2 separate regions of the Homo sapiens genome follow, and region 2 is linked to region 1. Evidence: fine-mapped expression QTL. A gene starts in region 1. The other region holds a variant in brackets. All regions are shown on one strand. Distances are between the middles of the regions.

The links. PIP is the estimated chance that this variant, and not a neighbour inherited with it, causes the effect.
Region 2: its variant is the best candidate, but not a certain one, in a credible set for the expression of SERAC1 in whole blood (GTEx, PIP 0.84).

The regions. Positions count from the first base shown.
Region 1 is chr6:158,162,469-158,177,967 of GRCh38, forward strand. It overlaps SERAC1 (serine active site containing 1), which reads right to left and starts at 5,794. Exons shown (of 17, transcript NM_032861.4): 1 at 5,672-5,794. GTF2H5 (general transcription factor IIH subunit 5) reads left to right here and starts at 5,882. Exons shown (of 3, transcript NM_207118.3): 1 at 5,882-5,927; 2 at 8,002-8,070. The coding sequence starts at 8,036. RefSeq lists silencers at 5,592-5,661, 5,702-5,881.
Region 2 is chr6:158,069,233-158,084,724 of GRCh38, forward strand. It overlaps SYNJ2 (synaptojanin 2), which reads left to right. Exons shown (of 27, transcript NM_003898.4): 14 at 301-441; 15 at 2,370-2,562; 16 at 5,348-5,506; 17 at 7,394-7,550; 18 at 8,932-9,049; 19 at 11,877-12,095; 20 at 12,200-12,278; 21 at 14,197-14,365; 22 at 14,769-14,942. Among named protein-coding and RNA genes, the nearest start is that of SYNJ2-IT1, 76 kb to the left of the region's middle. RefSeq lists enhancers at 1-949, 1,933-2,496, 2,497-3,058. The variant C/T (reference allele first, on the strand shown) is at 11,579.

The sequences.
Region 1 (15,499 bases):
TCAAGATTTGGTATGCTCCTTTGATCTTAGAACTCACATTTTTCTTCAATTCTGCAATATTCTTAACAATTACCACTTTGACCCCCATTCAACTTTTACCTTCTGATACTCCTATTAGATGTATGCTAGATTTTTAAAGTCTAACCTTCAAATCTCAACTTCTTCCATTTTTTTCTATCTGTCTGACATGCACTATAATTTCCCCAAATCTATCTTCCAATTCATCACCTTCTGTTTAGTTGTATTTAGACTATCATTCGATCCATCCACTGAGTATTTCAAAAACTTTTATTTCTAAAACTTCCAGTTGGCTCACTTTCATACTTGCCTGCTTTTTTTACACATAGTTTTTGTCTTAAATGCAGATTTTTTTTAATGGCCACAAATTATTCCTTTTCCTATAACCATGATCTTTGGTAGTCCCCTCCCACGGTGACTTTAGATTGATCTTACGAGTAACTTTGGCCATAGGACAATAGAAGCATGATGCAAGCTGAGACTTGGGAAGTACGTGCACATCGAGGCTCCTGTCTTTTTGCTCTTGAGAAACCTGTGACCAGCACCATGTAAAGATGCCTAGGTTAGTCTGCTGGATCACAAGAGAAATGTCCAATATCCCCATTAATGAAGCCAACAAGTACCAACTGACAGCCAGCAACAGCCGCCAGGCATGTGAAGCCACATCAAACTAGCCAGCCCCTAGGTGACCCTACAAATCCATATTCAGTCCTTAGCCTGCAAGCAATAATAAATGTTTGTTTTAGCCCGTAGCCTTTGGGATGGTTTATAATGCCTCAAAAAGCTGACATGTAACTTCTAAACTTTCCTTTACACGAGATATATGAGGTTGCTGCCAGCATAACTTGTTTTACAGTAAATTTTATTTTTTTATAAGTAGAGGGAATAGATGAATACACTATAAAATAACAATAAAAAGTATACCATAGGGCCAAGTGTGGTGGCTCATGCCTATAATCCCAGTGATTTGGGAGGCCAAGGTGGGATGATTGCTTGAGACCACAAATCAACTGACTATATCTGCGGCACATGCCTGTAATACCAGCTACTCAGAAGCCTGAGGCAGGAGGACTGCTGGAGCTCAGGAGCCCAACACCAGCCTAGGCAATACAGTGAGACCCACATCTCAAAACAAACAAACAAAAAACCCTAATGGAATACATATGTATGGACCTATTCCACTCCATCGATCTATTTATCTATCCTTATATAAACACTGCACTGTTTAGATTATGTAGGTTTTTTGTTGTTTTTTGTTTTCTTTTTGACAGAGTCTCACTCTGTCGCCCAGGCAGGATGGAGTGCAGTGGCCTGATCTCAGCTCACTGCAACCTCCGCCTCCCAGGTTCAAGCAATTCTCCTGCCTCAGCCTCCCAAGTAGCTGGGATTACAGATGCCCACCACCATACCTGGCTAATTTTTGTATTTTGGGTAGAGACAGGGTTTCACCATCTTGGCCAGGCTGGTCTTGAACTCTTGACCTCGTGATCCACCCGCCTCGGCTTCCCAAAGTGCTGGGATTACAGGTGTGAGCCACCGCACCAGGCAGATTACTGTAGTTTTTAAAGTAAGTCTTGAAGCTAGTAGTATAAATTTTCCAGCTGTGTCCTTCCTTTTCAAGACGGACTATTCTAGGTCCTTGGTACTTCCACATAATTTTAGAGTCTGCTTGTCAATTTCTATTTAAAAGCACCTTTAAGATTATGGGGCCAGGCACGGTGGCTCACGCCTGTAATCCCAGCACTTTGGGAGGCCGAGGCAGGAGGATCACGAGGTCAGGAGATCGAGACCAGCCTGGATAACCCGGTGAAACCCCATCTCTACTAAAAATTCAAAAAATTAGCTGGGTGTGGTGGCGGGCACCTGTAGTCCCAGCTACTCAGGAGGCTGAGGCAGGAGAATGGCGTGAAACTAGGAGGTGCAGCTTGCAGTGAGCAAAGATTGCGCCACGGCAGTCCAGCCTGGGCGACAGAGCGAGACTCCATCTCAAAAAAATATATATATATATTATGACGGTGATTACATAAAATCTGAAACACTGATTTTAAGTAGAGAACGGAGAAATTTTGAGACTAAGAAAGACACAGAAAATAAAAGGGAAGAGATTATAATTTAAAAATAAAACAAATATTTGAAAATTCCATTAAGTTTAACAATATGGAGGTCACTGGGATCTTCATATCAGTAGCTTCATTGCCCTGGTGGAGGAAGCCAGAGTGAAACATCATTTCATGCTTTCATTCTGATTAATAAAACGTGAGTTGTAGCTAGGTACACAGACAACAAAAAAGACTACATCACCTTTCTTTCTTTCTAGTTAACTATGGGCACTTACAAAGAATTGGCTAATGAAATATGAGTGGATGTGTCATGTGCAATTTCTGAAAAGTGTCCTTAAAAAGAAGGGTATGTGCCTTTCTTCCTCCTTCCCTCCTCCCTCTTGCTAGAATGAGCAACTGACAGTTTGAATTAAAGCAGTCATCTTAACACCAAGCATCTTATTAAGGACGGTAGAGCAGCCAGATAGAAGAATCCGAGTCCCTGATGATTACAGAGCTGCTTCCATAAAAGCATGGCTGCCTACCTATGCAATTACATACATATTTAAGCCAGTATTATCTTGTTTTCTGTGTAACACAGCTGATTCCAACACACCACAGTTTTTTGTTTTTTGGTTTTTTTTTTGAGACAGAGTCTCTCACTCTGTCACCCAGGCTGGAGTGCAGTGGCGCGATCTCGGCTCACTGCAAACTCCGTCTCCCAGGTTCACACCATTCTCCTGCCTCAGCCTCCCAAGTAGCTGGGACTACAGGCGGCTGCCACCACGCCCAGCTATTTTTTTGTATTTTTAGTACAGACGGGGTTTCACCGTGTTATCCAGGATGGTCTCAATCTCCTGACCTCGTGATCCACCCGCCTCGGCCTACCAAAGTGCTGGGATTACAAGCGTGAGCCACCGTGCCCGGCCCAGTTCTTAATATCTATATGCCAGTGATCTCAGAGTACCTCTAGCTACGATCTTTCCTGACCTATCTATCCAACAGCTATTGGAACATTTCCACTTGGATGTCCAACAGGCCTTTCATACTCAACTGTCCAAAAGAGAATTCTTTACTTTTTCTCCCCAAACTCTTCCTCCACAAATCTTCTCCATCACTATCCATCAAATGGTCAATGCTTTTTGATTGTAAATGGTAAATGATCTACCTCTTAACTGAAGCAAAAAAACAGATGTTGCCCTTGATTCCTTGTTTTCCCCTTACTCTACATCTAAACCACGCAGAGTTGCTCTTCTCTACCATCAAAACATACCCCCAAATCCATCCATTTTTCTCTGTATTCACTGCTACACTCTTGTCTAGTTCAAGCCAACATCATCTCTCATTTGGAGTAATAAAATGACACCTCAAAGGTGCTTTTTGTAACTTAAGAAATCCTTCTCAGAGACATTTAAAAAAAAAGTTCTGGAGATAGATAGTAGTGCTGGTTGCACAATGTGAATGTCACTGAACTCAACAACTCAACATGGTTAACATGATAAATCTTATGTGTAACAAGATTTAACAAAGCAAACAAAAAAGAAATCTTTCCTAGAGACAATGGTCTCTTATATTCCTTTCCAAATACCTTGCAGCTGTGCCATTCACATTTAGGTCTTTATCTGGAAACTGTTGTCAATAGTTTGAAAGTAAGAATCTAATCCTGTCTGTATACCATAACAATGCCAGATATCTCAGCAACCATATATTTCATCATCCTTTATTGAATAGTCTATGCTTTCCCCCTGCTTTGCAATACCACTTAGTGGTATACTAAACTCCCGTATGTAAATAGGTATGTTTCTAGTGTCTCTATTCTGTTCCATGAATCTAATTCTCTATCCCTGAATCAATATCATACCATCTTAATAATTACAACTTTATATTAAGCTTTGGTATCTGATAGGGAGAGACCTTATTTTTCTTCTTCTTCAAAATTGACTTCACTATTCTTGGTCCCTTGCCTTTCCATATAAATTTTAAGTTCAGCATGGCAAATTCCATAAAACAATATGGTGATTTTAATTGGCATTACACTGAATTCGTAGAACTGAGGAAAACTGACATCTTTTTGTTGAGTCTTTCCATCTATTAATACGGTATATCTCACCATTTACTTGGGTCATCTTTTGTGTTCCAACAGAGCCTTACAATTTTCTGTCTAAAGGACTACACAGCTTTAGGTTCATCTATTTCTAGGTACCTTTAGTTTTGAATGCCATTATGAATAGTGTCTTTTTATTATTAAAACTCCTAGTTAATTGTTACTGGTATACAGAAGTTTTTAAATGCAGAAATTAAGGCCATTTCTGACATCCCCCTGGCCAAAATAACCCCTCTAGTCACTCTTTATCACATCACCAAATGGTACTTATTCCTTAACTGATTTCAGAGTCTCTCTGCCCCCACCAAAATTAGTTACCTGTTCACCATTGTATCCCAAGCGTCTAGAATAATAGCTGACACACATCAAGTGCACAAAAATGGAACTGATGAGATCAAGGAAGAGAATGTATGCAAGATGAAAAAAAGCAAATAAAAGATACTTGGGAAGAAGAAGACTTGGAGGCAATTTTTTTATTTTAAAGAGAGTGCAACAATATGGAAATCACCAGTTGGAAAAGATTTGAGGGATAGAAAGAGGGAACTAAATGGAAGAGCTGGGTTCCTTAGCGATCACATGAACACACACGATGTTAAAAAAAAAAAAAAAAAAAAAAAGGCAGCATGAGGTCGGGCGCGGTGGCTCACACCTGTAATCGCAGCACTCTGGGAGGCCGAGGCGGGGGATCACCTGATGTCAGGAATTCCAGACCAGCCTGGCCAACATGGACAAACCCCGTGTCTACTAAAAATACGAAAATCAGCCGGGCGTGGTAGCGCACGCCTGTAATCCCAGTTACTAGGGAGAATGAGGCAGGATAATTGCTTGAACCCAGGAGACGGAGGTTGCAGTGAGCCCAGATCGCGCCACTGCACTCCAGCCTGGCAGACAGACCGAGACTCCATCTCAAAAAAAAAAAAAAAAAAGGCAGCATGAGCTTAATGCGGGAAGTACAATTTAACCTAAGGAACAGAAAACAAGAATCTCATATCTCAACTAGTAAAAATAATGACAGTGTTCCTTTAGACTTACAGAACAGACTTGGGGAAAGGGAGTAACTTTAGAACCTTCTGGGGTCTTTCACTTTAAAATGACCGTTGCCGAGTTTAGAGCTCTCTCAGCATTCAATCTATTCCATCTCTGGGGTTAGAGAGGGAGCAGGAAGCGGTGGTCTGCAAGGCTCAGAAGTGACTGGTGAGGCCCTTTCCTCCTCCTCCTCATCTCTCCGTGACTACCGAGCCCGGGAAGACGGACCGGCAGGTGCACTCCCCAAGGCCTCGACAGCAGCCAGAGAAAGGCAGCGACAGGGAAAGACGAGTCAGGCTCGCGACCACCAGAGAGAGAGGCCCTCACGCCCAGCCGAGCGTCAGCTGGTCGGTCCGGTCCGCGCGCCAGACGGCGGTGCTCGGCCGTGCCCGGTCCCTGCCCTCCCCATTCTCCGCTCCCCACCGCGCCCAGCTGCGCCGACGCCCCCGTCCGCCCCCACACCACCCCTGCCTTCACGTCCTACCTGCCGGCAGGCGGACTCAGCCCGTGCCCAACTGCTCGTCGGACCCCGTTGTCTGGGGAGCCCTACTCTTTCCGCGGCTCCCGGCCGGGACCCTCCACCCGGCGGCTGGCGGCTCGTGACCCCGCCCCCTCGGCCCGCTCTGGGCCCGCCTCCCGCCGGCTGGCTCCACCCACAATAGCGTCCCTAGCGCGATGGCGTATCGGCGCAGGCGCACTCTGCCGGCAACGCCGAGGCGCTTCTGCATCTGTGGGCCGAGGTGTGTGGCGAGCGTCCGAGCGGCTGGGGAAAGTGGGGTGTGGGAACACTGAGGGGTCCCAAAGAAAGGGGAGAGGAAGAGAAAAGCCCCAGAAGCCTGTCCACCGGGTGCTGGGGGCACAGGGCGGTGTCCCCCACTCTCTCCGGGCCCTTCCTGGCGGGGCCGCACGGCAGTCCCCCCCTCGTTTAATCGTGGGTTTCCTGTGGGGCTAGGGCTCGCCCTGCGCCCAGGTGTAAGTGGAAGTTAATTAAATGGGCGTACGCTGAGTGGTTTGTTTCCAGCCTAGGTCCGCACGGGACGTGATTTATTTAGTGAAGGGGCACAAGATCTGGAGATCTGGCTTGTACTTTTTTCCTTTGGCCAGGAACTACGGCTTAATCTCTTCCTTTGGTCTCCTCATATGTAAAATGAGGTGGCTGAGGCCGGGCGCGGTGGCTCACGCCTGCAATCCCAGCACATTGGGAGGCCGAGGCGGGCAAATCACTTGAGGCCAGGAGTTCGAGACCAGCCTGGCCAACATGGTGAAACCCCGTCTCCACTAAAAATACAATAAATTGGCCTGGCGCGGTGGCTCACACCTGTTGTCCCAGCACTTTGGGAGGCCGAGGTAGGTGGATCATTTGAGATCAGGAGTTCGAGACCAGCCTGGCCAACATGGTGAAACCCTGCCTCTACTAAAAATACAAAATTTGGCCTGGCGTGGTGGCGGGCGCCTGTAGTCCCCGCTGCTTGGGAGGCTGAGGCAGGAGAATCGCTTGAGCCCGGGAGGCAGAGGTTGCAGTGAGCCGACATCACGACACTGCGCTCCAGCCTGGGCGACAGAGTGAGACTCTGTCTCGAAGTGTATATATACATATATATATATTATATATGTATTTTATATATAATATATATTTATTTTATATATAATATATAATATGTATATTATGTATATTATATATAATACGTATATTATATATAATACATATATATAATATGTATATTATATATTATATATAATATTATATTGTATATTATATATTATATATAATATATTGTATATTATATATATTATATATTATATATATTATATTGTATATTATATATAATATATTGTATATTATATAATATATTGTATATTATATATAATATACAGTATATTATATATAATATACTGTATATTATATATAATATATTGTATATTATATATAATATATTGTATATTACATATATTGTATATTACATATAATATATTGTATATTACATATATTGTATATTACATATAATATATTGTATATTATATAATATATAATATATATTATATAATATATTGTATATTATATATTATATAATATATTGTATATTATATATTATATAATATATTGTATATTATATATAATATATTGTATATTATATATTATATATTGTATATTATATATTATATATAAAAGTGTGTATATATATACACACACACACACACGATACAACACAGTACATTAGCTGGGCTTAGTAGTGCATGCCTGTAGTCCCAGCTACTCGGGAGGCTGAGGTGGGAGGATCGCTTGAACCCAGGAGGCAAGAGGTTGCAGGGAGCAGAGATCGCGCCACTGCACTACAGCCTGGGCGGCAGAGCCAGACCCTGTCTCAGTAAAATAAAATATAAACTAAAAGGAGGTGGTTGGGCTCACTGTATAATTTTTGAAGCACCTTTCAGAACTATCTTCTTTGATTCCTGTCTCCCAGGATCTTACCCTTTGTCATTCTCCTGAATGGGAAAAGAAATCCTTTGAATAATGGACGGTTTATACCTGGGTTGGGCACACTGGTGTAGAGTTAGGCCTCTTGCTTCTATTAGGGCTAATTGACCTTGGGTAGAATTGGCTGGCGAGTAAGATGTGGCATTAATATTCCAAGTAGACTCATTTTAATTTTGTTAAAAAATCAGAATGTCTTTTTTCTTAATGTTAACTGTCTTTCATAGACTTAACTGTTAAATATTGACATTTAATTATTTTGCCTCGTTTCAGAGGCAGATCCCCAAAGTATATGAAAGTTAATGATTTTTAATTTAATGTTACCTTACTCTTTTTATTAGCATTCTTCAGGTCATCTGAACCTTCTGAGAAAACATGGTCAACGTCTTGAAAGGAGTGCTTATAGAATGGTTAGTAGTTTTGATACTGCATGAGTTTTAAGTTTAAATATTGAATCTTGACTTGTATGTATGTCTTTTCTAAAACCCTGTTGTTTTTAAGATATGGATGAAATCAAGTCTTTCGCTTTTAACAAGTGGCACAGATTTTGTTGCAAAGCTCCTGGTGCCAGATTTCAGTCCCTCTGTTGAATTGATGGAACTGGCATGATCAGAGGCAGCATATTTGTTAGATGAGTCGTCTTTAGAGAAACAGTGCTTGCATTCTCCTCAAACATGATGAATTTTAGGGCCTGAAAGAGTTCAGGAACTTGCTTAAGTCTTTACCATTACAAACTGTGGACTTTAAAAAAGAGAAAAACAACAGAGCCAAATGGAGGTTTCTTAAATTCCTTTAGGTACATTCCAGAGGAGAAACTAAAAACCATAAATGGGCAGAGTTGAGTTCCTCAAAGCAATCCAGTGTCCAGGAACCCCGGGAACCCTGCTCTGTGGACACTCCCATTGTCTGAAAATACTACTGTCTACTTTCGGTGCCTCTAATATGAGCCAGTGCATGGATAATGATACTGTTTACTGTGATGGCAAGGCTAAGGAGGAGCAAGACCAAACCCTAGGACACTGCCAACATTTAGAACAGCACTAGCCAATAGAAATCTAATGCAAGCCACAGATATAGTCTTACATTTTTTCTAGCCATCTTAAAAGTAACGTAAAATGAAACAGGTGAAGTTAATATCTTTTGTTTAACCCTGTCTATGCAAAACACTATGCTTTGAACACATACTAAGTCTTCAAAAAAATCTTCATCTTCAAAGTCGAATGGATATTTTAATTTTACAGCACATCTCACAGACTAACCGTGTTTCAAGGACTCTGTAGTGACCTGACTAGTGGGCTACCTTATGCATAGTGCAGATTTGGAGTTTTGATACAGGAGACACCAACAAAGGCAACTAAGAAGAAAATAGCCAGTGAGGCTGGAGGGAGGAAAGCCAAAGGAGGAAGTGTTTTGTAGGGATGAGCGGCTGTGTTGGGCACTGATTGAGAACTGGCATGAGATGAAGACTGGAGTTTTGATGAGAGCCATTTGAATGGAGTGGTGGGGAGATGCCAGATTGAAGTACTGTGGAAAAGGAAAGGGAGGTGAGGAGGTGGAGATGGAGACTTCGGAGAAGTTTTACTGTGATCATGAGCAATCTCATAGAGAACTGGATTGGTAGCTGACGAAGGACATGGTGAGGGGCTCAGGTTCTTGCTATTTTTATTTTAATGTGAAAGACTAGAATGTACGTTGATGAGAGTAAACCACTGCGGGGGAGAGGTATTCACTTGGAAAAGCAAAGGGGGTGGGATCTGGACCCCAGAAGTTCTAAACACACTGTTCTGTTGTCTTTTGAAGGCACTAGGTTTGATGTACTTATTTTCCTATTAATTTGACATAACATAAACATTTTCCTCGTTGGCCTTTAGTGTTATTTTTAAATACAGAGGATACACATACACAGAGTGTCAGCTATCACTTTTTTTCCCTCGTTTCTTCCAATTCTAAGTTTAATCTTCACCCCTGGGTTTGTTAAATATTCACTTCTCTCTTCTGAGGGTTTTGTGTTTTTCTTGGTGTTTTAGATTCATTCATCTAGAATTTATTGGGAGGAGTGGCATAGGTTTGTTAAATATTCACTTCTCTCTTGTGGGGATTTTGTGTTTTTCTTGGTGTGTTAGATTCATTCATCTAGAATTTATTCAGAGAAGAGACATATTATTAGATAAGGATCTAAATTAGCTTCTTTTTTTTTTTTTTGACACGGAGTCTTGCTCTGTTGCCAGGTTGGAGTGCAGTGGCGCGATCTTGGCTCCTGGATTCAAGCGATACTGCTGCCTCAGCTGCCCGAGTAGCTGGGATTACAGGCACACACCACCACACCCGGCTAATTTTATTTTTGTATTTTTAGTAGAAATGGGGTTTCACCATGTTGGCCAGGCTGGTCTCGATCTCTTGACCTCATGATCCACCTGCCCCGGCCTCCCAAAGTGCTGGGATTACAGGCATGAGCCACTGCACCCAGCCTAGCTTCTTTTTTGTTTTGGGTGTTTTTGTCTGTTCATTTTGCCAAATATCTAGTTCTCCACCATTATTTCCTTTCTTAATGATGCTTGATGCCTCCTTAATCACATAATTTTACTCCCCTTGCTATTCTCTTTCATCCCTTCCCACATTCATCTTTCTTGTTGCCTATTCTAGAATAACCTTGAAATAACTTAGTCTGTTTCCAAAATAATCCTTTTGGCATATTGGTTGGAATTGCATTAAACCTACGTTTTAATTTGAAAAAAAAGATGACTGGATTGCATCTTAAAGAACAAAACTCTGGGGAGACTCTGAAGTCTCAGTGCCCGGTTTGCTGTCCCGTATCTAACCTCTGAATTCTACCTGGTCTCTCTAATGACTGTCCATCACCTTGCACTTCAGGGTAATCCCCAGACTAGCAGTAATAGCATCATCTGGAGCTTGTTAGAAATGCAAAATCTCAGACCTCACCCTAAATCTACTAAATCAGAATTGTGCATACAAAGAATCTTGTTAAGATGCATTTAAATTTTGAGAAGCAATAATACTGTTAATCAGCTTCAGTTTAATAATGTTTCCCTGTGGAGAAGTGTTTTGCACCAGGACTATTAAATTTTATTTTGCAGGTTAGGTACCATCCTTGCAAAACTAATTTTTCCCTTTGAAGTGAATTCTAAAGTGTAGTCTGCACAATTTTTCAAAAGGGTAACTCTGTCTTCCCAAAAACACAAGTCTTCCAAAAAGATTTTGGGCCTAAGAAATAACATAGATTCCCAAAGGAAAGGGTATGGCCAGTGCTAGTGGATTCCCTTTCACAGTTAGATGCAGATGTTAGGATGGTAACTGGAAAAGTCCTTCAGTTTCCCTCATGTCCATATTTGATGCCAAGGAGAAGCCTGTTAATAATATGATTATCAGTATAAGTCTGTTTATTACTTCATAATATCCATGGATTGTATGAAGCATTTAGGTGTATTGGAGTATGGAATTTGATAGGTCTGGAGTTTACAGGCAGACCACTCAAGGATCTTCTACAGCTGTTGCAGGTGAATACCAAAATTGAGGCTCAGCCCTGGAAGCCAAGTTGGTTTTTGGCTTCATGCAGGAAAGAATTCAAGAATGAGCCACAGAGTAAAGTGAAAGCAAGTTTATTAAAAATGAGGGAATAAAAGGGTGGCTACCCCATAGGCAGAGTGGAGTGGGGAGGGTGGGAAGCAGGCGGGCCTGCTAACTGGCTATTTTATGGCCATTTCTTGAGTATATGTTAAACAAGGGGTGGATTATTCGTGAGTTTTCTGGAAAAGAGGCAGGGATTCTGTGGAACCAGGAGTCCCCAGTCCAGACCATACGGGGTAACTTCTAGATATTGCCATGGCATTTGTAAACTGTCGTGGTGCTGGTGGGGGTGGTTTTTAGCGTGCGCATGCATTATGATTTGTGTATGATAGTGGTGAAGGTTGCTTTTGTTGCCATCTTGGTTCTGGCTGGTTTCTTTACTGTATCCTCGCTTATCGGTGGGGTCTTCTGACCTGTTGTTTACTGTCTCTCTTGTCTTGGAAACTAGTCCTGCTGAATTCCTATCTCACAGCTGCTTCCACTGTCCCAGGAATCTCTCCAAATTCCAGTCCCATCATTGTATTAATAGAAACTGATGTGTAATAGCTTATATAGTGCTGATCCACATATATCTTAGATTGGCTTCACTTAACTGCCATATTTAAACTCCATTTCTATCAGTTAAGTTTAACTGATTTTGAGTCTGCAGAGATTTGCTAAAGAAGTAAACCAAATTATGATGATGGCCATTTATTCTCACCTTCAGAGAATTGAAAAATCAGGGCACTTGGATATAATCTTAACTCCCAAGGGCTTATCAAATACTAAAATTGAAGGCTATAAAAGAAGTTTTATGTTTATAAATTTGCACTTTTATGTCAAAACTGAAAGGTTGGTGAAAATTTCCTCTTTGTTGGGATCCACCATCAATTGCCAGGCTCACACTAAGTATTCTCCCAAATCTAGCCACCAAGCAATTACCAAAGCAAGCAACACATGACCACAGTATGTCTGTGTCCAGTTCCAGATGCTGGAGCAGACCTCTGGTATAACAGTTGCCACAATTGGTTTGGCAAGTGCTTCAGCAAAGATTTGTTGCCAAGGTGCAAATTCCAACCAGTTTACATCACAATAGCAAAGAATCTGGAGAAATATGTATTATTAAACTACACTTATCCTTATGAGTTTGGCTTCTAAAGCTATATCGTTTATGAGAAGCGAAGTAAGAAGTATGGCAAAACCAGTCTAACCATTGTTCTGTTTTTTTCTCAGCATGTATAAATCTTTTCTCAGCCTTTGCCTCTTAGTAGGGCCATGTTCGCTGAAGTTTTCCAGGCACCCAAAACTGTGCCTGAGATGTGTGTGTGTGTGTGTGTGTGTGTGTGTGTGTGTATACACACACACACACATACACATATATAGATATGGCTTAGTAAATATTTGTGTACTGAATAAATTTTGTTAACAGAATTGAGTCCAGGTTTGTGATCTCAGCCAAAATCCCAAATTTATTAATGTTCCTTTAGAGCCTCTCTATTCCTACAGTGAGATTCACAGTGAATAAGATGGGATTCTTGATAAATTAAAGTTTTAGTTTGAAACAGATGTGTATACTAGGCCTCCTTTTAGCATGTTGTATATCAAAATAGCTTTTAAATGAGGAGGCTGTTGTCTTCCAGTCATAGCTTTTAAAAAGCAAGCACCCCACCAAGCTGCTGATGGAAGTGTAATCCCAAGAAACAACTGTAAGCAACTTGTGATGGGTGTTTTGTGCTTTTATATCCTTTAACACAATAACTCCGTTTCTATAAGTTTATCTTTAGGAAATCGCTGGGTGCAGTGGCTCACGCCTGTAATCCCAACACTTCAGGAGGCTGAGGCGGGTGGATGGCTTGAGGTCAGGAGTTTGAGACCAGCCTGGCCAACATGGTAAAACCCTGTCTCTACTAAAAATACAAAAATTAGCTGGGCATGGTGGTGGACGCCTGTAATCCCAGCTACTGGGGAGGCTGAGGCAGGAGAATCACTTGAACCCAAGAGGCAGAGGTTGCAGTGAGCCAAGATCATGCCACTGCACTCCAGCCTGAGCAACACAGTGAGACCCCATTTCAAAAAAAAAAAAAATTTTAGGAAATGATCAGAACTGCCAATAAAAATGTATGTATTTAATGTGCTAGAAAAAGAAATTTGTTGATTGTGGCATATTTTAATCAAATAATATAGCTGTTAAAATATTTGCAGACATTTTAAGTGATTCAGGGAAATGACACTGTACAATGATGTTAAGTGAAAACACCTGGATTCCTGTACTAACGCTGTTTTCCATGTGACATGTGCTATACTAAGCACTTGCTAATATTAATTTAGTTTTCACAACAGCCCTTTGAGGTAAGTGCTGTCATCTCCATTTATGGATGTACAAAGTGAGATACTTTGTATCAATTAATCAATTGCTCAGTTACATAGCTATTGTTAAACTGGGATTTTAAATCCCGGTATTCTGGCTCCAGAGCCCAGGCTACTAAACGTTACATATACTATCTCTCCATTATAAAACTAAGTATAATATTGTGTTTGCTTTTGTTTTTTTTTTGAAACGGAGTCTCACTGTCACCCAGCCTGGAGTGCAGTGGCACAATCTTGGCTCACTGCAGCCTCTGCCACCTGGGTTCAAACGATTCTCCTGCTTCAGCCTCCCAAGTAGTTGGGATTACAGGTGCCTGCCACCATGCCTGGCTAATTTTTGAAGTTTTAGTAGAGATGGGGTTTCACTATCTTGGCCAGGCTGGTCTTGAACTCCTGACCTCGTGATCCACCCACCTCGGCCTCCCAAAATGCTGGGATTACAGATGTGAGCCATTGCGCCCAGCCTATGTTTGCTTTTTAAAAGGATATACGTATGTCTTAGAATTATACCATATATATTCATAGGTTAATGGTTTTGTAATTGAAATAGTAAATTGCCGAGACCAGCTCGGTCTGGGAGACCCTAACCCAGCAGCGCTAGAGGAATTAAAGACAGACACACAGAAATATAGAGGTGTGGGGTGAGAAATCAGGGGTCTCACAGCCTTCAGAGCCGAGAGCCCCGAACAGAGATTTACCCACTTATTTGTTAACAGCAAGCCAGGGATGAGCATTGTTTCTATAGATTATAGATTATAGATTACCTAAAAGTATTCCTTATGGGAAACAAAGGGATGGGCCAAAATAAAGGGATGGGTTGGGCTAGTTATCTGCAGCAGGAGCATGTCCTTAAGGCACAGATCACTCACGCTATTGTTTGTGGTTTAAGAAAGCCTTTAAGCGGTTTTCCGCCCTGGGTGGGCCAGGTGTTCCTTGCCCTCATTCCAGTAAACCCACAGCCTTCCAGCGTGGGTGTCATGGCCATCATGAACATGTCACAGTGCTTCAGAGATTTTGTTTATGGCTAGTTTTGGGGCCAGTTTATGGCCAGATTTTGGGGTGCCTGTTCCCAACAGTAAATCATTTGATAGGGATAGAACTAATTGTAATTTAAACCTCTCTGCCTATATCCTCTCACATGGTCTTGGCATTTTAATTGCTCATTTGAGTACCTACTATGAGCAAGATGTTTTAGAAATATTCTGTAGTCCATCAACTTTGCAGTGTAGCTATGGTACTAACATTGCTGTTACAGATCACAGGCTCTTTGGCTCCCTATGTAATAAAAATTAACACAGAGCTATACAGTTTTCCCAGATGAGGCTTTTATTTCAGGGTTTATCCACAAATGCAAGGGAGACAGTACAGTAGTAAGAACTCTGCGGCTGACCCCCAAAAAAGCTGATGGGGACTTTTTGATTAGGCAAAGCATGGGAATTGACATCAGGGATAAGGTATGCAGGCTGCGCTGGGTAAAGCACATGAAGGGTACAGTATGTGGTCAGCATCTGTGGTTGCAGTGGTTATCATACTTTAAGTTCTGGGTTAAATGTGCAGAACGTACAGTTTTGTTACATAGGTATACATGTGCCATGGTAGTTTGCTGCACCCATCTACCCGTCACCTACACTAGGTATTTCTCCTAATGTTATCCCTCCCCTAGACCCCAACACCCCACAGGCCCTGGTGTGTGATGATCGCCTCCCTGTGTCCATGTGTTCTCATTGTTCACCTCCCACTTATGAGCGAGAACATGCAGTGTTTGGTTTTCTGATCTTGTGATAGTTTGCTGAAAATGATGGTTTCCAGCTTCATCCATGTCCCTACAAAGGACATGAACTCATCCTTTTTTATGACTGCATAGTATTCCGTGGTGTATATGTGCCACATTTTCTTAATCCAGTCTAT
Region 2 (15,492 bases), 93 kb before region 1:
CTGGCTTTATTTTAAGGAACTTTCTGAACAAATAAATAAGACTGACTCTGTGGGGCTGCTATGAGAAGGTCCTGGGTTGGGTTTCAGGGGTCAAGGGAGGGCTGCTGTGATGTGTGAGGCATAGCCAAAAACACGCAGATCCTCCAGTAGAAGAAGGAAAGCATGACACTAATATTGGGGTGCGGGCAGCGTGAAATCAGTTCTGCAAACAGAATAGGCTTGGGCTGGAGCATTTGGTAGGTGGGAGATAGATGTACTTCCAGCTACCTGTAAACAGCATCCTTTCCTTTTCTCTTCCAGTACTACCAACAAGAAGATGTGGGGTGAACAGCTTCAGAAAGCCATCTCACGCTCTCATAGATACATTCTGTTGACTTCGGCACAGCTGGTGGGCGTCTGTCTTTATATCTTTGTACGTCCATACCATGTCCCGTTCATCAGGTAAGAACATTCTGTTTACACACATCTGGGGAACAAGGGGTTGTTAGTCTTTGTGTTTTGTTCTTTGACTTCCCCCTCCTCCCCCATCCCCTTCTGTAACAGGAATCGGGACTTACCATTATTTTAGATAAATGTAGCAAAACCCCCTAGGAAAAACTGGGCTGAATAGAATATTGTCTAGCGATTAAAAAGCCACCATGGGAAATGTCTAACTCAGGAAGCTGAACTCTTAGAAAGGGTGTTACATGATTGTCATCGCCCAAGCTCAATTCCGTGCAAGGAAAAGGGTTCCTTGTTGGAATCTTATAGACAGGAAACCTCTGACCAAGAGCTGAGTAACTCACTGGGAAATGCCAACTCTTTTGTCCCTTTTTAAAAGAATTCTAAGTAGAACGTGTGGGCCTCTACAACTGTGACCTCATTGTCATTTCTCCAAGGTGCATGCTTTGTGAGCATCAGAAAGGGGGCGAGCTTAGGGGCGGCATTCCTCTTGGGGTGTGGGTGTGGGTGTTTGGATGCTGGAGGAACTCATCTTTTCCCCAGCTTGTGGTTGGCCTCATCTTACCACCTGGGCCTACCCATGGCTTTTGAATTTCCACCAGCCTTTCGGCGAGCTGGCAGCAGGCGTTGAACTGACCTCCCCACTGAGCCCCTGGGTCCCGGGAAGGGCCTGTGCCTGCCAAGAGCACCACGGGTACACCCCTGCAGCACCTGGAGACTAAGACTATGCTGCCCATAATCCTCTTCTCTGACTTTCAGAAGATGTTTAGGTCCCTGTCCCTCTGCTTGTGTTATTTGGGCAGCTTGGCAGTGTCCTAGGTTAGCAGGTGAAGGTTAGTAAAGGTTAAAGGCAAGGGCGGGGTGAGGGTGAGAGGTAAAGCATTTGAGAAAGGGCTCAGAGCTGAGGAGAGCCAGGTTTCCCAGGCTCGGTGTCCTCGGCTTCACGTGCCTTTAGCCCTGAGCTGCTTCCGCCTACACCCCTTCCATCAGTCATCCCCCCAACCTTGTCTGCCAGCGAGCAGATGCACCAGCAGGCCTCAGTCTGTGGCATGGCTGTGGAAATGTTAACAAATGTGCTTGCAGCCCATGTTTCTATGGACTCGTATGCGTCATAAGTGGGCATTTGAATGCAAGCAGGCTCTGGCATTGCATAAAAGTCCTTTTGAGACCATCTACCCAGCCCAGCATAAACAGCTGCCCGTTTCCTAGCTCTTAAAGTGCATTGATTGCTGGGCACGGTGTCTCACGCCTGTAATCCCAGCACTTTGGGAGGCCAAGGCAGGCAGATCACTTGAGGTGAGGAGTTTGAGACCAGCCTGGCCAACATGGTGAAACCCTGCCTCTACTAAAAATACAAAAATTAGCCGGGCGTGATGGTGGGTACCTGTAATCCCAGCTACTCAGGAGGCTGAGGCAGGAGAATTGCTTGAACCTGGGAGGCCACAGTTGCAGTGAGCTGAGATCACGCTGCTGCACTCCAGCCAGGGTGACAGAGCGAGACTCTGTCTCAAAATAACAATAATAATTTAAAAATGTGTTGATTGCCCAGATGACACCTCCCATGCATGGCGTGATGGCTGCACAGGAGTGGGGTGGGCTGGTGGGTGGTGATGTTTGCGCCGCTCCTGGTGGCAGTGAGAACCTGGGCGGATGCAGGCATTGCCCTGTCTTCGGCTTCATGGGGTGCTCAAGTGAGCACTTCCCAGTTGGGGTGTGGGGGAGATGTCCAGGCAGCGGTGGGCAGCAGGAGGGAGGCGGCCTCCTGACCAGGAGTCGATGACGGCCACGGTGGCCACTGTGTTGAGCTGATGATTTTGGAGCACTCAGAGCAGCAGGTCCCGAGCTGCTGCTGGGCCCTTCTCTGTGGCAAAGCAGGGTCACACTTCTCCTTCAGGAGCCGACGGCATGCGCGTATCCTTCTGTTCCAGGGACGTAGCCATCGACACAGTGAAGACGGGCATGGGGGGCAAGGCGGGGAACAAGGGCGCCGTCGGCATCCGCTTCCAGTTCCACAGCACCAGCTTCTGCTTCATATGTAGTCACCTGACGGCCGGGCAGTCCCAGGTGAAGGAGCGGAATGAAGACTACAAGGAGATCACCCAGAAACTCTGCTTCCCAATGGTGAGCGGCGCCGTGGGGACAGCCAGCACCTCCCTGCTCAGCTCAGTCCCAAATGTGACTGTTGATAGGAGCCAGGCACTGGGGACACAACCACAGGGAGGGCCCCTTCCTGGAGGGCTCAGCGCTGGGGGAGGGGGAGAGGGCTATGTCCCTCCATGGAATTGACCTGGGGCAGGGTTAGCCACGTGCCTGGAGGGGGCCAGCTTTGCAGCATTTCCCGTTGCTGTACAATTCCTGAGTGTCTGCATGGCCACTGGATTTGTATGTGTGCATTTTCTGATTTTCTAATTCAAGTGATGGTTTAGGGAAGAAAACCATGTCCGTGGTCTGTCCTGTCCAAGTGGTGAAGAGCATTTGAATCCACACAGCCTAAGACTCCACCTTCCTGAGATTCACAGTCTTCACATGTACTTTCTGTGGTGGCTCAGATAAGCACACCCTTTTGACCAATGGACCCTTTTTGACTGGGAACACGGTTCTTGACCAAGGAGCCCAGATCCTGCCTGTCCTCGAAGCTGCAATAGCGAACCGCACACTGCCCTCTCGTGGCGGTCCGGAGGGTTTCATTCTGAAACTGGAGGATTTTCTTTTCAAATCTAGACGTTAATGTTCTCCTTCCTGTGCAAAGATGCTACCCGGGCACAGCTTCAGCGTGTGGTGCACACGAGGCCACCTCTTTCCCGAAGTGAGGATAGACTTCAGCTGTTCTTGCTGCAAAATCTTCCACTGTCTGAGAGGTGGTGGGTTGGGTCACAGAGCTCTTCCCTGTGAGAACAGATCCTTAAAACTGACGTCCCATTTTACTGGGCTGCACGAGCACTCAAGGCAAAATTTCCTTAGTTTTCATTAAGAAGTGCCATAATTCCTGTTGGTGTTGTTTATTTCTTATGTTAAAAAAGAAACAAACGAGTTGGGAAATTTTCAATTGTGTGTAATGCAGTTTAAAAAAAAAAAAAAAGTCTAACCCTTCTCACTTAAAAATAGCTACTTTGGGGCCAGGCACAGTGGCTCACACCTGTAATCCCAGCACTTTGGGAGGCCGAGGCGGGCAGATCACCTGAGGTCAGGAGTTCGAGACCAGCCTGGCCAACGTGGTGAAACCCCACCTCTACTGAAAATACAAAAAAAATTAGCCAGGCGTGGTGGCGTGCACCTGTAATCCCAGCTACTCAGGAGGCTGAGACAGGAGAATCGCAACCCAGGAGGCAGAGGTTGCAGTGAGCTGAGATCGCACCACTACACTCCAGCCTCGGCAACAGAGCGAGACTCTGTCTAAAAAAAAAAAAAAAAAAGTGCTACTTTGACATAGTAAACTTGGGATACATAATAAGTAATTAAAGGATTTATAATGTAGTTCTTTTCTACCATAAAAATATTGAGGGACCTATTAACATTCTACACTTCTTTTTTGTTTTTGTTTTTTGAGACAGTCTCACTCTGCCACCCAGGCTGGAGTGCAGTGACATGATCTTGGCTCACTGCAAACTCCACCTCCCAGGTTCAAGCAATTCTCCTGGCTCAGCCTCCTGAGTAATTGGGATTACAGGCGTGCACCACCAGGCCCAACTAGTTTTTGTATTTTTAGTAGAGATGGGGTTTCGCCATGTTGGCCCAGCTGGTCTCGAACTCCTGACATCAAGTGATCCGCCTGCCTCAGCCTCCCAAAGTGCTGGGATTACAGGTGTGAGCCATGGTGCCTGGCCAACATTCTACACTGGTATTGTCTGATACCGTAGTCACTGGCCATAAGTAGCTATTTAAATTCAAATTAATTAAAATTAAATAACATTTAAAATTCCTTGCTTTCCCTGGCCACAGTGAGAATGATCAGTATCCATGTGGCCAGTGGCTCCTGCATCAGATGGCACAGAGAACATTTCGGTGCTGCAGAAAGTTCTGTCTGACAGTGTTATCTAGACGCTCATTTTATTTGGTTGGGACCTGTTTAATCTTCTGTCCAGATTATTGTCATGGGGGGAGTGGAAATGCCTCATATTATAGGAGAAGAGAAGCTGATTTTGGAGCTAGGCAGATGGGAGCTGAAATCCCATCTGTATCATGCACTAGCTGTGTAACCTTCAGCAAGTGCCTTTGTTTCTGAACTTTGTTTTTTTTTTTTTAATCTAAGAGAGAGCTGGTGGTATCTGCTTTGTGCACCTGGAACAGAGCCCAGCCCTTGCGGACAGTTGATCCACAGCAGCTGCTGTCATTGTCTTCCCCATTCCTGGGGAAGAGACAGGGAAGGCAAGGACCCCAGGAGCTCTCCGGGGCTGAGCTGGGGCCGTGGGCTCCTAGGACTGGGCAGGATGGGAAGGAGGAGCTAGAGAGAGATGGAGAAGGGTCACCTGAAAAAGCTCAGGAAGTTACATGAAGGTGCACATCCTGAGCATTTCTGCTGCTCTTTTGAAACCTCATTCTCCTAACGCTGAATGCTGGGTGCTGCTTCCTAGGAGTAGACACTCCAAAGTAAGGGTGCATCTGATCTTCAGGACGGGGATCCATGGAGGAAATGCTGGCCATGTTGCTCTCCTCCGTTTAGGGTAGGAGCTTTCTTCAAACCACTCAGAAACACTATTATTTAAAATTAAAAAGTAAGCCATGTAAAAATTCCTCCATAGTTTTATGGGATGAGTGAAAAACAAGATGCTCTAGTAGAAAACTTTCTTTTTTCTAAGTAGCATTTTGAGAAAAATACTCCTGCTTGCCCCAGTGAGCTTGTTTTTCTCCTCTCTCCCACCTTCCTTGCAAGATGGGCTGAATGATTATGATTTTCTTTTCAACTTAGGGGAGAAATGTTTTTTCTCATGATTATGTATTTTGGTGTGGCGATTTCAACTACCGCATTGATCTTACTTATGAAGAAGTCTTCTATTTTGTTAAACGCCAAGACTGGAAGAAACTTCTGGAATTTGATCAACTACAGCTACAGAAATCAAGTGGAAAAGTAAGTTGTGCTTTAAAAACATTTTTTAGCAGCTGCTCCAAGATGGAATGACATCTGTGAGATGTAGAGGCTGGTGCAGCAAATTCAGTTCCGTGAGTGGATTTCACTGTTTCCAACATTGTAGAAAATAGGTGGGCTTGTGAGGTTACAGTACAGGAGTGGCTGTTCATACACACTTCCTGTCCTTTTTTTTTTTTTTTTTTTTTTCCTGAGGCAGAGTCTTGTTCAGTCACCCAGGTTGGAGTGCAGTGGCACTATCTTGGCTCACTGCAACCTCCACCTTCCTGGGTTCAAGCAATTCTTGTGCCTCAGCCTCCCGAGTAGCTGCGATTACAGGCGTGTGCCGCCACACCTGGCTAATTTTTGTATTTTTAGTAGAGACGGGTTTTCACCATGTTGGCCAGGCTGGTCTCGAACTCCTGGCCTCAGGTGATCTGTGCGCCTCAGCCTCCCAAAGTGCTGGGATTACAGGCATGAGCCACCATGCCCGGTCAACCTTCTCCTCCTTCTAATACTGTTATTTTAGTGCCTGTTTGCTTCCTAGCAGGATGAGCTGAGATGAGGGGAGTACATTTAAATTCCATTTAGCTGTGGAGAAAGAAGCTGGTTAAATGTGTGAGGGCCAGGTGCGGTGGCTCTTGCCTGTAATCCCAACACTTTGGGAGGCCGAGGCGTGCGGATCACCTGAGGTCAGGAGTTCAAGACCAGCCTGGCCAACTTGGTGAAACCCCATCTCTACTAAAAATCCAAAAATTACCTGGGTATGGTGGCAGGCGCCTGTAATCCCAGCTACTCAGGAGACTGAGGCAGGAGAATCGCTTGAACCTGGGAGGCGGAAGTTGCAGTGAGCCGAGATCGCACCACTGCACTCCAGCTTGGGCAACGAGCAAAACTCCGTCTCAAAAAAAAAAAAAGTGTGAGGACAGGGCAGATAAGGTCTCTCCTGAAGCAAGATTTGGACGTTCTTCGAGGTTTACTGTGTCTTCCCACTTGAGCCCCTTCCAGTGTGTGGAGTGCTAAAGGGTTGCCACATGGACGAGTGACCATACCAACCTCCTAAAGCAGGTTTTCCTGTCTTCCTACTACCAACATTCTCACATCCTCTCAGTGATGCCCAAGAGAATGAGGGTGTGTTTGTCCCTTGGTCTTCCCATGGAAGCAAGGCCAATCCAAAGTTAAACAAAGAAAAGAAGGATGTGCATGGGGGCTCACGACTGTAAGGCGGGAGGATTGCCTAAGCCCAGGAGTTTGAGACCAGCCTGGGAAACATAGGGAGACTTTGTCTCTACAAAAACTAAAATTAGCCAGGCATGATGGTGCGTGCCTGTAGTCCCAGCTACTTGGGAGGCTGAGGCAGGAGGATCACATGAGCCCCAGAGGTTGAAGCTGTAGGGAGCCGTGATTGCACCACTGTATTCCAGCCTGAGCAAAAGAGCGAGACCCCAGGGGGAGAGAGAGAGGAGAGCTGACTTTCACTCTGCGCTTCTATGTACTTAGCTCATTTAGTCAACAAACATAGATGAAGGCCTCGGGGTTGTGGGCCAGACATGGCACCAGGCATGGGACTGTAAAGATGAGCACCCCTGACCCGTGCCTCGGACCCTGCACTGTCTCCTGGGGGGCAACAAGAAGACAGTGGATAGATCAGACACTGGAGTGGGTGGGGAGATAGATACGAGGGCGGTGTGTCCCTCAGTGGGATGAGCTGAGGATCACTTTTTTGCTAATTAAAAGACACATATGTCCAGTTTCAGATAGATTTTCAAATGTAATGGAGCTTCTGTTACTTTTTAAGAATAGGGACTTGCCTTTTCAGTTTTCGTTTTTGTATATAACATTCAGGATCGAAAACTACGGTGGCCTGATGACTTCTTTTTCTCCCAATAGATTTTTAAGGACTTTCACGAAGGAGCCATTAACTTTGGACCCACCTACAAGTATGACGTTGGCTCAGCCGCCTACGATACAAGCGACAAATGCCGCACCCCCGCCTGGACAGACAGGGTGCTGTGGTGGAGGAAGAAACATCCCTTTGATAAAACAGGTGAGGGGGCCGTGCCCGTTCGAGAGTCGGCAGAGGGTGAATAAGAAATGCGACGGAGGGAGAGTCACGTTTACCCAACCCCAGGCGCTGCTACATAAATCAGTTTCTTCATAACCCCAGATGACACAAAAGTCATCCCAGACCTTAACCCCTAAGCTTTGGAAGTTGTGCTTTCAGGGAGCCTCTGCTTCTGGCCTCTTTTTTTCCCTTTTCTTTTCTTTTTTTTTTTTGAGACAGAGTTTCACTCTTGTTGCCTAGGCTGGAGTGCAATGGCGTGATCTTGGCTCACCACAACCTCCACCTCCTGGGTTCAAGCCATTCTCCTGCCTCAGCCTCCTGAGTGCTGGGATTACAGGCATGCACCACCATGCCCAGCTAATTTTGTATTTTTAGTAGAGACGGGGTTTCTCCATGTTGGTCAGGCTGGTCTTGAACTCCCAACCTCAGGTGATCTGCCCACCTCGGCCTCCCAAAGTGCTGGGATTACAGGCATAAGCCACTGCGCCTGGCCTCCTCTGGTCTCTTTCTAGAGACAGTGACCTGCAAATAGGTCTGCTCCTGGCTGCCCCTGCATCACAGCTCCCCCCCACACCCCCACCTCTTTTTTCTGGGTGGGGAAAGCGGGGAGCATGAGGTTGCCTCCCTCCCTGCCCCCCATGCTCCCCCTCATGTTCTTTATCCAGCCTATTTTGTTCAGCTACACTTTTACCTGCTTAAAGCCCTAATTCCAAATTGGACACGAGCAAGACACAGTAAAAATAAGTTAGTTTTTAAAAATCATTAGTTGTCAAGTATGTTTTGAACAACTGTTGATGCCCAGCTAGGAAGTGAAGTTTATTTAAAGTTAGAATATCTGTAACTAGTACATAAAAAAAAAAAAAAAAAAAAAAAAAAAAACCTAATTACACATTTTGGGAGAGCATAGCCAGGAAATTGCATCTGTGAAAAGAAAATACAAATTTTCCTCTAGATGAGTTTGTGAACGCCTGTGTGGCCCCAGCGCTCTGAGAGGTGGGGCCTAGAATGAGTCCGAGTGTTCTCAGCTCCTGCAGCTCTTACCATACCAATTGCTGCCAACCTTCTGGGATTCCTGGGTCCTGGAAACCCGGCAGCAACACTGTGTCTCAAGCCTACAGTGGGCATGCTGGCGAGGACTGCAGGCATGGTCATGACTGTTTTGAATAATTATATGCGAGGAATGTTTTTAACCAAAGGCCCCAAAGCATCCGAAGCCTGGCTTCAAGGTGGAGGAGTAAGGAGGATGAGTCTGGGACGTGGGGTGGTTCGTGGCGCAGACCTCTATTGTGGAAGTGTCATGATCGCATTCTTGGATATTGACTCGATTCTATATGGGTCTCTCGAATGGAACCCCTGCGAGTAGCTGGAGAACTCAACCTTCTAGACAGTGATCTAGATGTTGACACCAAAGTCAGACACACCTGGTCTCCTGGTGCCCTGCAGTATTATGGTCGTGCGGAGCTACAAGCGTCTGATCACAGGTGAGGTCCTGACTTCCATGGCGTTTTCTCCTGTGCTGGGCAAGGCAGCGTCTCCCTCTCCGCAGGAAAATGCATGCTGTCCCCATAAGGATGTGTGTGCGCATGGGGGTGCATTTTGTGTGCATACAATACACCAAAGAACAAAGAATGATGGAACAAATATCTGTGGACCCACCACCAAGAACTAATTAATCTTAGCATTTTGTCATTGCTCCATATCATAAATGACATCATTGATGAAAATTTCAAAGATGCAACCTACGTATTTTGCGGCTTTTATATTTTCTTAAATGATGTCGTTGTGCAACTTGCTTTTTTGTTACTATTTTTGAGATACAGTCGTGTTGATGTTATAGCTCTGGTGCATTCATTTGTAACTGCTGTCTAGTATCCCACTAAATATATCCATGGAACTTACAACTTATCCATTCACCTCTTGATGAATATTTTCTCCAGGATTTTATGATTACAAACACCATAGGGTTTTTAAATCTGGGATGCACAACCTTTTTTTTTTTTTTTTTTTTGAGAGAGAGTCTTGCTCTATTGCCCAGGCTGGATGGAGTACAGTGGTGTGATCTCAGCTCACTGCAACCTCCGCTTCCCAGATTCAAGCAATTCTCCTGCCTCAGCCTCCCAAGTAGCTGGGATTACAGGTGCACACCACCATGCCTGGCTAATTTTTGTGTTTTTAGTAGAGACGGGGTTTCACCATGTTGGCCAGGCTGGTCCCAAACTCCTGACCTCAGGTGATCCACCCACCTTGGCCTCTCAAAGTGTTGGGATTACAGGCGTGAGCCACCGCACCTGGCCCTAGGATGCAGGGCTTTTTAAATGCTCTGTGCATCATGCATTGAGGATAGAGTGGAGGCAGCAGAGGGAGCACCGTGGGCACCAGCACCTGTGCCCTGGGATTGCTGCAGAGGAAGACTCACCCTGCAGAATGTCTTTAAAGACAGAGGAGAGGATGGCATTTGAGGGTGTGAAGAAGGAAGAGTTTGATCTTCCCAAGGCTGCTGCCTAAACTCTCATGTCAGTTTCAACTTTTACAAGGAAAGAAATTAAGAAAAAGAAGGTAAGAACAGTTGGTCAACGAAAAAACCTTTTTTTTTTTTTTTTGAGACAGAGTCCTCCAGGCTGGAGTGCAGTGGCACAATCTTGGCTCATTGCAACCTCCACCCCCAGGGTATAAGTGATTTTCATGTCTCAGCCTCCCAAGTAGCTGGGATTACAGGCGTGCATCACCATGCCCGGCTGATTTTTGTATTTTTAGTAGAAACGGTTTTGCCATGTTAGCCAGGCTGGTCTCCAACTCCTGGCCTCCAGTGATGTGCCCGCCTCAGCCTCCCAAAGTACTGGGATTACAGCCACCATGCCCAGACTCTTTAGATAATTCTAAATTCTTTAGATACCTGTTGTTGCAAATACATACCTAGAAGTGAATCTTGAGGAATCTTCAGATATGTGACATCAAGGTTTGCTAGCTCAATGTATTTTGAAACCTTAATTTAACCAATATTTCTTGAGGGGCCCTTACATGCCAGGCCCTGTTGCTGGCCTGGAGAAAAGCAGTGAACAAAACAGATGAGACCATGTTATCATGGAATTTTCTGGACAGGACAAACAGACAATAAACAAACATGTGTGCTATGAAAGAAAAAAAGTAGTGGCAGGAGTCAGGCCAGAGTCGAGCTATTTTCAATCAGGCTGTGTAATTTTCGTAATATAGGATTTTCTGGAAATTTATAGAGTAATAACCATCCCTGTGTCAGAATTACTATAAGGATTGCATTATTTCCTGCTGGACTGTTTTCCTGTTTACATCATTGATTTTTACATTATTCCTAATGATTGCGTAGGGTATTATATGAAGGTATCATAACTGTTTCCCCATTAAGAAACAGAGCATTTTGGCCTGGCGCAGTGGCTCACGCCTTTATCCCAGCACTTTGGGAGGCTGAGGCAGGCGGATCACCTAAAGTCAGGAGTTCAAGACCAGCCTAGCCAACACAGCAAAACCCCATCTCTACCAAAAATACAAAAATTAGCTGGTCATGGTGGCATGCGCCTGTAATCCCAGCTACTTGGGAAGCTGAGGCAGGAGAATCACTTGAGCCCGGGAGGCGGAGGTTGCAGTGGGCTGAGATCGCGCCACTGCACTCCAGCCTGGACAACAGAGGGAGACTCTGACTCAAAATAAAAAAAAAAAAAAAAACGAGCATTTCCCTTTTTTTTTTTCCCTCCCATCAACAATGCTGTAAATGATCAACCTCATGCATTAAATCTTTGTCTGAATCCCTGGTCATTTCCTTAGAATAAAGTCCGAGAAGTGAGATTACTAGGTGAAAAGAGATGAACAATTTTGGAACTCTATGTAAAGTGCCAAGTAACCCTCTGAAAAGCTTGCACCCCTGGCAGAGTGCAGATGTCTGCTTCCCCACCTCCTTGGTGGTACTGAGGATTACCATGTCAAAAATCTTTGCTGATGGCTGGTTATTTTCCAAGTACTGGGATACATCTTTAAGGTGC[C/T]ACACTTTATTTTCCCCCTCAAATCATCTTTAGATAAAAATGCCAAGGTGATACTAAGGTTAAGGAAAGATGAAGACTAAAACGCCAGAGCAGGGCAGCTAGCCTGCAAATCCACCTGCTGGTGGCCACATTCGCAGGTTGTTGGTGTTGACTGTTTACAAAGAGCCCTGGGGGACAGCAGCTGGGGACTGGGGGCTGGAGATGTGGACATCTGTCCCAGGCTAACTGGGGACTGGAGGCCGGGGGTGTGGACATCTGTCCCAGGCTAACTGTCATCCCTCTTTTGTTCCTAACGCAGACCTGTGCTGGCGATCGTGGAGGTGGAAGTTCAGGAAGTCGATGTGGGTGCTCGGGAGAGGGTTTTCCAGGAAGTGTCCTCCTTCCAGGGCCCCCTGGATGCCACTGTTGTAGTAAACCTTCAATCACCGACCTTAGAAGAGAAAAACGAGTTTCCAGAGGACCTGCGTACTGAGCTCATGCAGACCTTGGGGAGTTATGGGACAATTGTTCTTGTCAGGTAACTGCTCCCCTGGCTGATGTGGGTTCCAGGGGATGTCGATGAGGATCCGTGAGAGCTGCCAGGTCGTTCTTGGCATTGACTTGGAGTATCATTTATTCCAGGATCAACCAAGGGCAGATGCTGGTAACTTTTGCAGACAGTCACTCGGCTCTCAGTGTCCTGGACGTGGACGGTATGAAGGTACGCTGTACTTGGCCACACTGTGGAGTGGGGTCTGATCAATCCCTCTTTTTATGTGGGCATGTCTTCTTCCTCCTCTTGCCCTGACCTGTGCCTTTTTTTTTTTTTTTTTTTTTTTTTTTTTTCTCTGAGACAAAGTCTTGCTCTGTCATTCAGGCTGGAGTACAGTGATGCAATCACAGCTCGCTGCAGCCTTGAACTGCCAGGCTTAAGCAATCCTCCCATCTCAGCCTCTCAAGTAGCTGGGACCGCAGGCACGTGCCACCACACCCAGCTAATTTTTTTTAAATTTTGTAGAGAGAGGATCTCACTCTGTAGCCCCGGCTGGAGTGCATTGGGACAGTTATGGCTCACTATAACCTCAGCCTCCTGGGCTCCAGTCATCCTCCCGCCTCGATCTCCCAATGTGTTGAGATTACAGGCATGAGCTTTCATGCCTGGCCACCAATCTGTCTTTATGTATAGACGCCATATGCGGGAGGGAGTTTGGATTCTTCACTCTGGTTCTAAGGTGTCTCATGTCCGGCTCTAGCTACTTGCAAAATAGGGCGGAAGGGTGGGCGCAGTGGCTTATGCTTGTAATCCCAGCACTTTGTCAGGCCAAGGTGGGTAGATCACCCAAGGTCAGGAGATCGAGACCAGCCTGGCCAACATGGCGAAATCCTGTCTCTAGTAAAAATACAAAAATTAGCCAGGCGCTGGGTGTGGTGGCTTACGCCTGTAATCTCAGCACTTTGGGAGGCTGAGGCGGGCAAATCATGAGGTCAGGATTTCGAGACCAGCCTGGCCAACATAGTGAAACCCCGTCTCCACTAAAAATACAAAAATTAGCCAGGCATAGTGGCAGGTGCCTGTAATCCCAGCTACTTGGGAGGCTGAGGCAGGAGAATCACTTGAACCCAGGAGGCAGAGGTTGCAGTGAGCCGAGATCGCACCATTGCACTCCAGCCCAGGCAACAGTGTGAGACTCTGTCTCCAAAAAAAAAAAAAAAAAAAAAAAAAGTAGCCAGACATGGTGGCGCGTGCCTCTAGTCCCAGCTACTCAGGAGGCTGAGGCAGGAGAATCGCTTGAACCTGGGAGGCAGAGGTTACAGTGAGCTGAGATCGTGCCACTGCACTCCAGCCTGGGTGACAGCGAGACCCTGTCTCAAAAAACCAAACAAACAGAATGGGGAAGAAGAATGTCAGTCACTGTGTCTCACGTTGGAAGGCAGCTCTACCAGCAGCTGCAGAAGCTTAGCCATTTTAGAGTGTAGTTCTCGCCGAGTTACTTGATCTGTCTATGCTCGCACTGCCATGTGGGAGACTATTCCAGTCTTTCTCTTTAGAGTATGTATTTTGGAATATGCAGCTCATAGATAGTTTCCGTTTTTATAGTATCTTGGCTTTAAATCTGTACCAAATGGGAAGCTGGAGATGAGAGTTCAACTTTTTTTTTTTGAGATGGAGTCTTGCTCTGTCACCCAGGCTAGAGTGCAGTGGTGCAATCTCGGCTCACCGCAGCTTCCGCCTCCCGGGTTCAAGCGATTCTCCTGCCTCAGCCTCCCGAGTAGCTGGGACTACAGGCACTCACCACCACGCCCAGCTAATTTTTGTATTTTTAGTACAGATCGGGTTTCACCGTGTTGGTCAGGCTGGTCTCAAACTCCTGACCTCAAGGGATCTACCTGCTTCGGCCTCTCAGAGTGCTGGGATTACAGGTGTGAGCCACCGCACCCAGCCCAGTTCAACTTTTTTTTCAACCAGATGTATGAGAGCTATGCTGAGCCTGCGTGAGGTCTGGACCCTTGGTTTTTCAGGGCCAAATGTGAAGATTGGCCTCGTTGAGGGTGTGTGGGTTTTGGTGAGAAGCATTGTGTGATCAACAGGAGGGGTCATGATTTTTATTTATTCCTGGGTGGCCGCTCTGCCCTCCCAGGTGAAAGGCAGAGCAGTGAAGATTAGACCGAAGACCAAGGACTGGCTGAAAGGTTTGCGAGAGGAGATCATTCGGAAACGAGACAGCATGGCCCCCGTGTCTCCCACTGCCAACTCCTGTTTGCTGGAGGAAAACTTTGACTTCACAAGTTTGGACTATGAGTCAGAAGGTTAGTGACCCTGCAGGGAGGGACAGGCAAGCCGTTCTTCTAGCAACAGGCCTGAGCTTTTAAGGACACCTTCTAAAGCCTCCCTTGCAGAAGTGACGGAGGACACCCGCAGGGCAAGCCCTCTGTCCCATGTGATGAGCATGTTTGTATGTGTGGACGATGCATGCCATGCTACCTGGGACCCGAGGCATCTAAACTTAGGCTACAAACAGTGGCTATGAGGATATCAGGGCTGTGGGTGTACCAATGGAACTGGGGTACCGTCCCTGCTGGCGCCTGGGCCCTGAGCTGCAGGGCAGGGTGCACGTGTCCTGACAGGAGCTGAACCAGTCCCACTGATGGAAGACTGAGCCTTTCCCCCTCATTGTTTTCACCCGAATTGTGATTCATTTCCTTCTCCCAGGGGATATTCTTGAAGACGATGAAGACTACTTGGTGGATGAATTCAATCAGCCTGGAGTCTCGGACAGTGAACTCGGGGGAGACGACCTCTCTGATGTCCCCGGCCCCACAGCACTGGCTCCTCCCAGCAAGTCACCTGCTCTCACCAAAAAGAAGCAGCATCCAACGTACAAAGGTAGCCTGACCCTTCTTTTCTCAGGAGCCTCAGCGATGGAGTCAGCTCAGGACAGACTTTCCTTTTTCTCTTGGCGATTGGGCACTGTGTGATATCAAGTATGCAGGTCCCAGGAGAGACCTCAACCAGGCAGGCCAAGCGAGGGGTAGGGACTGAGCCCTGTGGAGGTAGCCAGCTCCAACACCCTGATTTCCTCTAGTTAGTTTATTTTTTTACAATAACTTGTACCCCCATAACACACCAGATTCAAGATAATTCTTGTTTCCTCTGGATATTCAAATGGCCACGGTTCTGAACTGGTTTTATATTTGTGATTATTTCCCGCCCCCAACAAAACTCTTCTGATTCAGCCAGGCGCAGTGGCTCACACCTGTAATCCCAGCACTTTGGGAGGCCGAGACAGGTGGATCGCTTGAGGTCAGGAGTTCAAGACCAGCCTGGCCAACATGGTGAAACCCTGTCTCTACTAAAAATATTTTTTAAAAATTAGCAGGGCATGGTGGTGCACATGCCTGTAATCCCAGCTACTCAGGCAGCTGAAGCAGGAGAA